Regions from separate parts of the Homo sapiens genome. Here region 1 is linked to region 2. A link means that fine-mapping ties the variant in region 2 to the expression of a gene that starts in the linked region. Tissue or cell type: testis. Region 2 holds a variant in brackets; the other region holds the start of a gene. All regions are shown on one strand. Distances are between the middles of the regions.

What was found. PIP is the estimated chance that this variant, and not a neighbour inherited with it, causes the effect.
Region 1: it holds the start of APOC1, and the variant in region 2 is fine-mapped to the expression of APOC1 in testis (GTEx, PIP 0.94).

The regions. Positions count from the first base shown.
Region 1 is chr19:44,911,518-44,916,662 of GRCh38, forward strand. APOC1 (apolipoprotein C1) reads left to right here and starts at 3,091. Exons shown (of 4, transcript NM_001645.5): 1 at 3,091-3,216; 2 at 3,355-3,432; 3 at 4,673-4,808. The coding sequence starts at 3,375. RefSeq lists enhancers at 1,127-1,886, 2,645-3,404, 3,405-4,162 and a promoter at 2,104-3,230.
Region 2 is chr19:45,219,266-45,224,410 of GRCh38, forward strand. All of the region lies in intron 8 of EXOC3L2 (exocyst complex component 3 like 2), which reads right to left. Among named protein-coding and RNA genes, the nearest start is that of EXOC3L2, 24 kb to the right of the region's middle. The variant G/T (reference allele first, on the strand shown) is at 2,724.

The DNA of each region.
Region 1 (5,145 bases), 310 kb before region 2:
GAGCCTCAGTTTCCCCAGATGTCAATGAGAGAATCAGCATCAGCCACATCTCCCACCTGAAGAATCGAACCTTGAGTTCTCACCTTTAAGAATTTTTTTTTTTTTTTGAGACAGTGCCTTGCTCAGTCGACCACGCTGGAGTGCAGTAGCACGATCATCAATCACTGCAGCCTCCAACTCAAGCAACCCTCCTGCCTCAACCTCCTGAGTAGCTGGGGCCACAGGCACCCACCACCATGCCTGGCTAATTCTTTCTTTTTTGAGATGGAGTCTCACTCTGTCGCCCAGGCTGGAGTGCAGTGGCACCATCTTGGCTCACCGCAACCTCTGCCCCCCGGGTTCAAGCAATTCTCCTGCCTCAGCCTCCTGAGTAGCTAGAATTACAGGCGCACACCACCACACCAGGCTAATTTTTGTATTTTTAGTAGAAACGAGGTTTCACCACGGTGGTCAGGTTGGTCTCAAACTCCTGACATCAGGTGATCCACCCGCCTCGGCCTCCCAAAGCACTGGGATTACAGGAGTGAGCCACCATGCCTGGCCATATTTTAAACTTTTTTGTAGAGATGGGGTCTTACTATGTTGCCCAGGCTGATCTCAAACTCTTGGGCTCAAGCAGATCCTCCTGCCAAAGCTTCCCAAAGTAGTTGGATTACAGGTGTGAGCCACCACGCCCCACCAACCTATGAAGATGTCTAAGCAGACAGGGTGCCCTATCTCACCACATCCCCAGTCAGATCCAGAGGTGGGACAAGGATGGGAAGGAGGTTCCAGAACAAAGGCTGGCAGGGAGTCGTATGGGACAGGAGCTGACCCAGCAACCATCCACAGAGACATCCTGGAGCCTGGGAAGGAGAAGGACAAAGAGCCCCCTTTTTTAAATTTTTTTTATGTTTTTGAGACGGAGTCTCACTCTGTCACCCAAGCTGGAGTGCAGTGGCACAATCTTGGCTCACTGCAACCTCCACCTCATGGGTTCAAACGACTCTCCTGCCTCAGCCTCCTGAGTAGCTGGGACCACAGGTGCACACCACCATGCCTGGATAATTTTTGAATTTTTGGTAGAGACGGAGTTTCACCATGTTGGCCAGGCAGGTCTCGAACTCCTGACCTCAAGTGCTCCGCCCACCTTGGCCTCCCAAAGTTCTGGGAATACAGGCGTGAGCCACTGCAACCAGCCAGTAGCCCCCATCTTTGCCCCTCGCTGAGCCCTACTGGATGTTCTTGGTTATGCGACAGTTTCCCCATCTATTAAAGAGAAACCCCTATAGCAGAGGGGAGGATGAGGTTGGAAAAGCAGGAGCATTGTTATGCTATTCTTGTGGGGTCTGGGAAGCAGACATCTGGGTGGATGTTTGGGGGGTGCTGGGCTTAGTTGGGGAAGTAGGGGGGCCCCTGGGGCTGACAGGGACTGGAAGCTCTGAGCTGGCCAGAGGGATGTTGCAATCCTGCCAGGGTCTTGTCTATGCTGTCCTTTTCACAACCATCCCCCTACTGCCAGGCTGACACGTGGTTGCGGGGGCACAAGGCCAGCCAACCTAGAGTCTGAGGCTAGGCGGAGGACACCCTCCCCACCAGCTGCCAGGGTCACTGGCGGTCAAAGGCAGCTGGTGGGGAAGGCATTGGACTCCAGCCTTGGGGGACGGATGTAGTGATGGTGGGAAGCAGGCTTGGTGCCAGGAGGGGCGTCAGAGGGTGAATAAAAGCAGATAGAGTGTTTGGGGGAGGTAGCCAGCCAAAGGGGGTGAGGCCCGGTGGAAGGGAAGAAGGGACATACACGCAGAGCTTTGCAGCTGAGGGTTTTAATTTTTTGAGATGGGGTCTCTGTCCCACCAGGCTGGAGTGCAGTGGCACAATCACAGCTCACTGCAGCCTCGAACTCCTGGGCTCAAGCAATCTTCCTACCTCAGCCTCTTGAGTAGCTGGGACTACAGGCATGCGCCACCACGCTCGGCTAATTTTTGAACTTTTTTGTAGAGATGAGGTCTCCCTATATTGCCCAGGCTGGTCTCGAACTCCCAGGCTCAAGTGATCCTCCCTCTTCAGCTTCCCAAAGTGCTGGGATTACAGGCATGAGCCACCATGCCTGGCTAATGCAGGTGAGGTTTTTGCAGTGTCATCCAGCTAAGGCGACCCGTTCCCCTCCCAAAAAAGGGAGACTGAGAACCATGAAGTTAAGAGCCCAGAGAATATCACGGTGGTCTGGGGTGCTTCAAGGGCTGGTCTGGAATAAATTGGAGGTGGCACGCAGGGTAGGAGCGCCGGGCCAACTGGGAGACCCAGCAACATAAAGGAAAAGTTGTTGGGGCTGAGGAGGCTTGCTGAGAGAGGGGAAGTGAGGGAAAGAGGTGATCTAGGGACACGGTGTGAATGAGGGGGGGATGAGATCACAGGGTTATTACTGGGAGACCCCTGAGGGAAGATGGCCACAGGGACAGGACAAGGCTGTCTTCTTAAGGGAGGAGACCACCCCTCATATTGTCTTATGCCCAATTTCTGCCTCCAAAGAAAGAAAAAGTAAAAACTAAAAGGCAGAAATGAAATCCACAAGCAGACAGCCCGCGCCACACCCTGGGCCTGGTGGTTAAAGATTGACCCCTGACCTAATCCGTTAGGTTATCTATAGATTACAGACATTGTATAGAAAAGCACTGTGAAAATCCCTATTCTGTTTTGTTCCGATCTAATTACCGGTGCATGCAGCCCCCAGTCACGCATCCCCTGCTTGTTCAATCGATCACGACCCTCTCACGTGCACCCACTTAGAGTTGTGAGCCCTTAAAAGGAACAGGGATTGCTCACTCGGGGAGCTCGGCTCTTGAGACAGGAATCTTGCCCATTCCCCGAACGAATAAACCCCTTCCTTAACTCAGCGTCTGAGGAATTTTGTCTGCGGCTCCTCCTGCTACATTCTGAGTGGGGAAAGGGACTAAGGTGGTCTGAGGACCCCACAGAGTCAGGAAGATTGAGAGGTGAGAGTGCTGAACGGGGAGGGGCTTTGGGGCTAAGGGAAGTGCCCGGGACCCCACCTGACCCCAACGCTCACGGGACAGGGGCAGAGGAGAAAAACGTGGGTGGACAGAGGGAGGCAGGCGGTCAGGGGAAGGCTCAGGAGGAGGGAGATCAACATCAACCTGCCCCGCCCCCTCCCCAGCCTGATAAAGGTCCTGCGGGCAGGACAGGACCTCCCAACCAAGCCCTCCAGCAAGGATTCAGGTTGGTGCTGAGTGCCTGGGAGGGACACCCGCCTACACTCTGCAAGAAACTCAAAAAGGGAGATGAGGGGATCGTGGGAGGGAGGTAGGGAGGGAGGAGGGTGCCACTGATCCCCTGAACCCCTGCCTCTGCCTCCAGAGTGCCCCTCCGGCCTCGCCATGAGGCTCTTCCTGTCGCTCCCGGTCCTGGTGGTGGTTCTGTCGATCGTCTTGGAAGGTAAAAGTGGGATGGGAGAATTGCGGAGTTGGAGATTTGGAAGAGTGAAGGTGGCTACAGGCCTGGGGTCCCGGCTTAGAGGACCTCTGAGAGCTCCGGGGCCCCTTCTGGGTCGTGGTTGCCTCATCGTGGTCGGGTGGGTCTCCAGGTTCTCCCAGGCTCAGTCCCGCAGGCGCCAAATCTGCGCAGGAGAGCACTAGCAACCGATGACGTATTGAGGCCCACACCTCTGGGATTGGCTGTCCTGCTTCGACAGCCTTGAAAGTGGGTAAGCTGGGTGGGGGGCTCTGGGAGAGGTCAGTGCTGAGTAAGGCAATTCCCAGCAGCTTGAGCCCCACCAGGTCACTCCAGTATTCCTCCCCATTCTTTTTTTTTTTTTTTTTTTTTCTCTTGAGACGGAGTCTCGCTCTGTCGCCGAGGCTGGAGTGCAGTGGCGCGATCTCGGCTCACTGCAAGCTCCGCCTCCCTGGTTCACGCCATTCTCCTGCCTCAGCAGGACTACAGGCGCCCGCCACCGCGCCCGGCTAATTTTTTGTATTTTCAGTAGAGACAGGGTTTCACCGTGGTCTCGATCTCCTGACTTTGTGATCCGCCTGCCTCGACCTCCCAAAGTGCTGGGATTACAGGCGTGAGCCACCGCGTCCGGCCATTCCTCCCCATTCTAACCACATGATCCCCAAGGATCTCTATCCATCCCGGTATCCCAACCTAAGGGGGTTCCAATAACAAATTTTTGGCCGGGCAGGGTGGCTCATGCCTGTAATCCCAGCACTTTGGGAGGCCGAGGCGGGCAGATCACTTGAGGTCAGGAGTTCGAAACCAGCCTGGCCAACATGGTGAAACTTCGTCTCTACTAAAAATACAAAAAAATTAGCCAGGTGTGGAGGCACGCGCCTGTAGGCCCAGCTACTCGGGAGGCTGAGGCAGGAGAATCACTTGAACCCGGGAGGCGGAGGTTGCAGTGAGCCGAGATCATACCACTGCACTCCAGCCTGGCTGACACAGCAAGACTCCGTCTCAAAACAAAACAAAACAAAAATAGCTGGGTGTGGTGGTGCACACCTGTAATCCCAGCTACTTGGGAGGCTGAGGCAGGAGAACTGCTTGAACCCGGGAGGTGGTGGTTGCAGTAGGCCGAGATCATGCCACTGCACTCCAGCTTGGGCTACAGAGCAAGACTCCATCTCCAAAAAAAAAAAAAAAAAAACAAATTTTGAACCCCTGCCCATCTTCCTGGCAGGCCCAGCCCCAGCCCAGGGGACCCCAGACGTCTCCAGTGCCTTGGATAAGCTGAAGGAGTTTGGAAACACACTGGAGGACAAGGCTCGGGAACTCATCAGCCGCATCAAACAGAGTGAACTTTCTGCCAAGATGCGGTTAGAACCCTTCCCAGGGCACGGGAGAGCTGGGGTGTGTTTTTGGGTGGAGCCCTGGCAGATGGTCCAAGATGAACAGATTGAAAAAAAAACAAGTCCTGGAGAGGCTGACAACATCCCTCTGGTCACACAGCTAGATCTCAAGGTGCTCAGACTTCAAGGACAGTTTCCCTGACTCCCATCCAGGCCATATTTTAAAAGATGGTCTTGGGCTGGGCACGGTGGCTCATGCTTGCAATCCCAGCACTTAGGGAGGCCGAGGTGGGCTGATTGCCTGAGGTCAGGAGTTCGAGACCAGTCTGACCAACATGGTGAAACCTTGTCTCTACTAAAAATA
Region 2 (5,145 bases):
GTGCCTGTAGTCCCAGCTACTCAGAAGGCTGAGGTGGGAGGATGGCTTGAGCCCAGGAGTTCAGGCTGCAGTGAAATATGATCATGATACTGCACTCCAGCCTGGGTAACAGAGGGAGGCCCCGTCTCAAAAAAAAAAAAAAAAAAAAAGAGAAAAAGTAAGAACTTTAAGACATATTTTTAAAATTCATTAACTATGCACAGCCCTTAAGGGAAGGAGGACGGATTGCTTCCACATTCCACTTCCTAGGTCTGGTTGAGAAAACATGTTCCCCATCTGGAGCTCTTAGGAAGGAGTATAGTAAATGCCTCAGTTAATAACATCCTCCTTTTTGAAAGTTGCCTTTTCTCTCCACCCTTGAGTAGATCCGGTATTTGACGAAACTTGTGAAAGTGGGTGGAACCTGTCTTGCCCCCTCTTTTCTAGAATGCACTGTATATGCGACTGTGACTTTCAAGGAAATGTGTTTGCCATTTGCTGATTTTGGGGGGAAGTTAATTTCTAACTTCTTCCACTGGTAAATGAAGGAAAGTATTGCACCTTGCAAATGCACCAAATGAATTGAGTTCACCATTTTAAAAACCGTCTTTTGGCCAGGCGGATCTCATTGGAAAATTATTAAGGGGCCAGGCATGGTGGCTTACACCTGTAATTCCAGCACTTTGGGAGGCTGAGGTGGGTGGATCACTTGAGGTCAGGAGTTCGAGACTAGCCTGGCCAGCATGGTGAAACCCCATCTCTACTAAAAATACAAAAAATTAGCTAGGCGTGATGGTGGGCGCCTGTAATCCCAGCTACTCGGGAGGCTGAGGCAGTAGAATCTCTTGAACCTGGGAGGCGGAGGTTGCAGTGAGCTGAGATCAAGCCATTGCACTCCAGCCTCAGCAACAAGAGCAAAACTCTGTCTCAAAAATAAATAAATAAATTAATTAAGGGCTGGGCACAGTGGCTCATGCCTGTAATCTCAGCACTTTGGGAGGCTGAGGCTCAAGAATTGCTTGAGCCAAGGGCAACATAGTAAGACTCCCTCTCTATAATTTTTTTTTGTTTGTTTAATTAGCTGGGCATGGTGGCCCACACTGTGGTCCTAGCTACTTAGGAGGCTGATGTGAGAGGATCATGTAAGCCCAGGTGGTTGAGGCTGCAATGAGCTATGATCATGCCATTGCACTCCAGCCTGGGCGACAGAGCAAGATTCTATCTCAAAAAAACAAACAGAAACAAAAACAAAACTCTTTTTCCCCCTGCCCAAAACAAAAAATAATAATAACTTTAAGACAGTGACAGAAGAGCATTAAACCAAGATTGGGCCTTTCGAAGTGTGTGTTTTGGGGGTGAGGGAAGCTGTGCGACCCTGAAGCTGGCATTGGGGTTTATTCCAGGCATAAGACAGGGAGGGGAGAGGTGAGGCTGGGGCAGGGCTGGATTGCACATGGCCTCCTGGGCTTGGGGAGAAGCCCCAGCTTTCTCCTGAGGGCACTAGGCAGCCATGGCCAGTTTGAGCTGGGGAGGGAGAGGGTCAGATTTGTGCTTTACCGAGATGGGAGGAGACGAGACTGAGGTAGAAATGATGGAGGAGGCTGGAAAAAAGGGGAAAGTGGAGATAGGGAGGGGATGAAAGGGGGTGAGGAAGGGGAAGAGGAGAATCCAAGTGGTAGAATTCATAGGATGAAGTGAGTGACCACCACCTGTGGGGAGGGAAGGGAGGTATCTGGAGGACACCAGAGACCCTGGAGATGGGCAGGCCGTGGGTCTCTCCCTGAGACAGGGGCGGGGGGAGGGTCGGGGGAGAGGCTGCAGTCTGGGTAGACACAGGGCATGTGAAGTTCGGAGATATCCCCAAGATGGTATCCATGGGAGGGCGTCTAATTCCCTCTTCAGCTCAGCCTCAGCACCTGCTCTCTCACCCTGACAGCAGCCCAGTTTTCTTTTTTGTTTTTTTGTGGTTTTTTTTTTTTGAAAGATAGGGTCTCACTATATTGCCCAGGCTGGTGTTGAACTGCTGAACTCAAGCAATCCTCCCACCTCACAGCCTCCCAAAGTGCTGGGATTACAGGTGAGAGCCACCATGTCTAATGTGTTGCTGGGTTTTGTTTGTTTGTTTTGAGACGGAATCTCGCTCTGTCGCCAGGCTAGGGTGCAGTGGCGCGATCTTGGCTCACTGCAACTTCTGCCTCCCAGTCAAGTGATTCTCCTGCCTACTCTCCTGAGTAGCTGGGGCTACAGGCACGTGCCACCATGCCCGGCTAATTTTTGCATTTTTAGTAGAGATGGGGTTTCACCGTGTTGGCCAGGATGGTCTCTTGACCTTGTGATCTGCCTGCCTTGGCCTCCCAAAGTGCTGAGATTATAGGTGTGAGCCACTGTGCCCAGCAGGGCTTTTTTTTTTTTTTTTTTTTTGATACAGGGTCTTGCACTGTCTCCCAGGCTGGAGTGCTACGGTGTGAACACAGCTCACTACATCCTCAACTTCCTGGGATCAAGCGATCCTCCCACTTCAGCCTCCCAAGTACCTGGGACTACAGGCACCCACCACCACACCCAGCTTATTGTTTTTTATTTTTTGTAGAGAAGAGGCCTCATTATGTTGCCCAGGCTGGTCTTGAACTCCTGGGCTCAATCGATCCTCCTGCCTCAGCCTTCAAAAGTGCTGGGATTACAGGTGTGAGCCACCACGCCCGGCCAGCTCTGTTTTCTGAACCTCCAAAAATGGAGCAAGGCAT[G/T]AGGGAACCCACATAATGCCTGGGCCCTGGTGATTCTCCCAGGGTCCCCACCCTGGCTGATGCTCACATACACATGCACACTCATGCACACGGCGCACACACACACACAAACACTCCCTCAAAAGCCTACAGCTGTTCACACACTCACACAGGCATGCGAGCACAGCACTGTGTCCTGTCTCTTCATGTCTCTAGCTGGTTGTTTTTCTCTCCTTTTTTTTTTTTTTTTGAGACGGAGTCTCACTCTGTCGCCCAGGCTGAAGTACAGTGGCATGATCTCATTTCATTGCAACCTCTGCCTCCCACGTTCAAGCGATTCTCCTGCCTCAGCCTCCCGAGTAGCTGGAATTACAGGCGCTTGCCACCACGCCTGGCTAATTTTTTGTATTTTTAGTAGAGACGGGGTTTCACCATGTTGGCCAGGCTGGTCTCAAACTCTTGACCTCAAGTGATCTGCCTGCCTTGGCTTCCCAAAGTGCTAAGATTACAGGCATGAGCCACCACGCACAGTCTATCTCTAGCTGGTTCTGATGTCTCTCCCTCTGTCCCTCTGTCCCAGTCTCTCTCCTTTCCTTCCTCCCTCACCTATCTTGTTTTCTCAGTCTCTCCCTGTTTCTTTTGCTTCTGCTCTCTCTGTCTGTGTCTCTCTCTCCCTCAAAACATACATAGTGGTTTATAAGGCCAGGCACAGTGGCTCATGCCTGTAATCCCAGCCTGGGTGACAGAGCAAGACTCTGTCTCAAAAACAATTTAACAAAAACAAAAAAGCAAACATACATAGTGGTTTATAGACTAAGACCGTAGATTCGCAATGGGCTTTGCCACTTGCTGGTCTCATCTTCCTCACCTGTAAAATGAATCTACAACCCATCTCATAGGATTGCAGTGAGAATTAAACGAGCCGATACTCTCAAGCACCTGGCACAGTGAGTCCTGAGAATGTGTTTGCTGTTGCTATAAAGTCTGTATATTTAAGATAGCAAGCTGGGTGTGGTGGCTTACATCTGTAATCCCAACACTTTGGGAGGCCAAGTCAGGAGGATCGCTTGAGCCCAGGAGTTCAAGACCAGCCTGGGCAACATAGTGAGACCCTGTCTCTACCAGAAATACAAATAAATAGGCAGGGCGAGGTAGCTCACACCTATAATCCCAGCACTTTGGGAGGCCAAGGTGGGCAGATCACGAGGTCAAGAGATCGAGACCATCCTGGCCGACATGGTGAAACCCCGTCTCTACTAAAAATACAAAAATTAGCATGGTGGCGTGGTGGCAACCGCTATAGCATGGCAGGTGGCAGTAAGTGCTTTGGAGAAAAATAGCAGGGAGTCGGGAGGGGGGTTTGGTCTAGGGGCTTCTGTTTTTTTGTTTTTTGAGAGGGAAGTCTCGCTCTGTCACCCAGGCTGCAGTGCAATGGTGCGATCTTGGCTCACTGCAACCTCAGCCCCCTGGGTACAGGCAATTCTCCTGCCTCAGCCTCCAGAGTAGCTGGGAGTACAGGTGTGTGCTGCCACACCTGGCTAATTTTTGTAATTTTAGTAGAGACGGGGTTTTGCCATATTGGCCAGGCTGGTCTCAAACTCCTGACCTCAAGTGATCCGCCCACCTTGGCCTCCCAAGTGCTGGGATTACAGGCGTGAGCCACCGCACCCAGTCAGAGCTTCTGTTTTAAATGGGGCAATCAGCGAAGGTCGCACTGAGGTGACATTTGAGTCAAGACTTGAGGCAGGGCATGGTGGCTCACACCTGTAATCCCAGCACTTTGGGAGGCCGAGGTGGGCAGATCACATGAGGCCAGGAGTTTGAGACCAGCCTGGCCAACATGGTAAAACACCATCTCTACTAAAAATACAAAAAAATTAGCTGGGCGTGGTGGTGCATGCCTGTAATCCCAGCTACTAGGGAGGCTGAGGCAGGAAAATCGCTTGAACCTGGGAGGCAGAGGTTGCAGTGAGCTGAGATTGTGCCATTCCACTCCAGCCTGGGCGACACAGGGAGACTGTCTCAAAACAAAACAAGACTTGAAACAGGCATGAGAGGCAGCTATGTGGCTGTGAGAGGGAGAGCATTCCAGGCAGAGGGAAGGGCAAGTGCAAAGGCCCTGAGGCAGGAATGTACTTGCTGGGTTAAGAGACAGCAAGGGGGCTGGCGTGGCTGGAGTGGGATTAGTGGGAGAGCCAGGAGTGGGGGGAGGGTGGCGGGCAGGGCAGGAGATGAGGTCTGAGAAGGAGAGTAGTGAGGGAAGGGGCTGATTGTGCCGGGTTGTGGGGGCTACAGTGGGATTTTGGCATTTGCTCTGCGTGAGCTGGGAGTTGTGGGAGGATTCTGAGCAGAGAGAAGGGGAGTGTTCCACTGTATAACATGGGTTGAGCTTGTGTTACGGCCAGGAACACACTCCCCCTGCAGTCTCTCTCCTCAGTGCTCC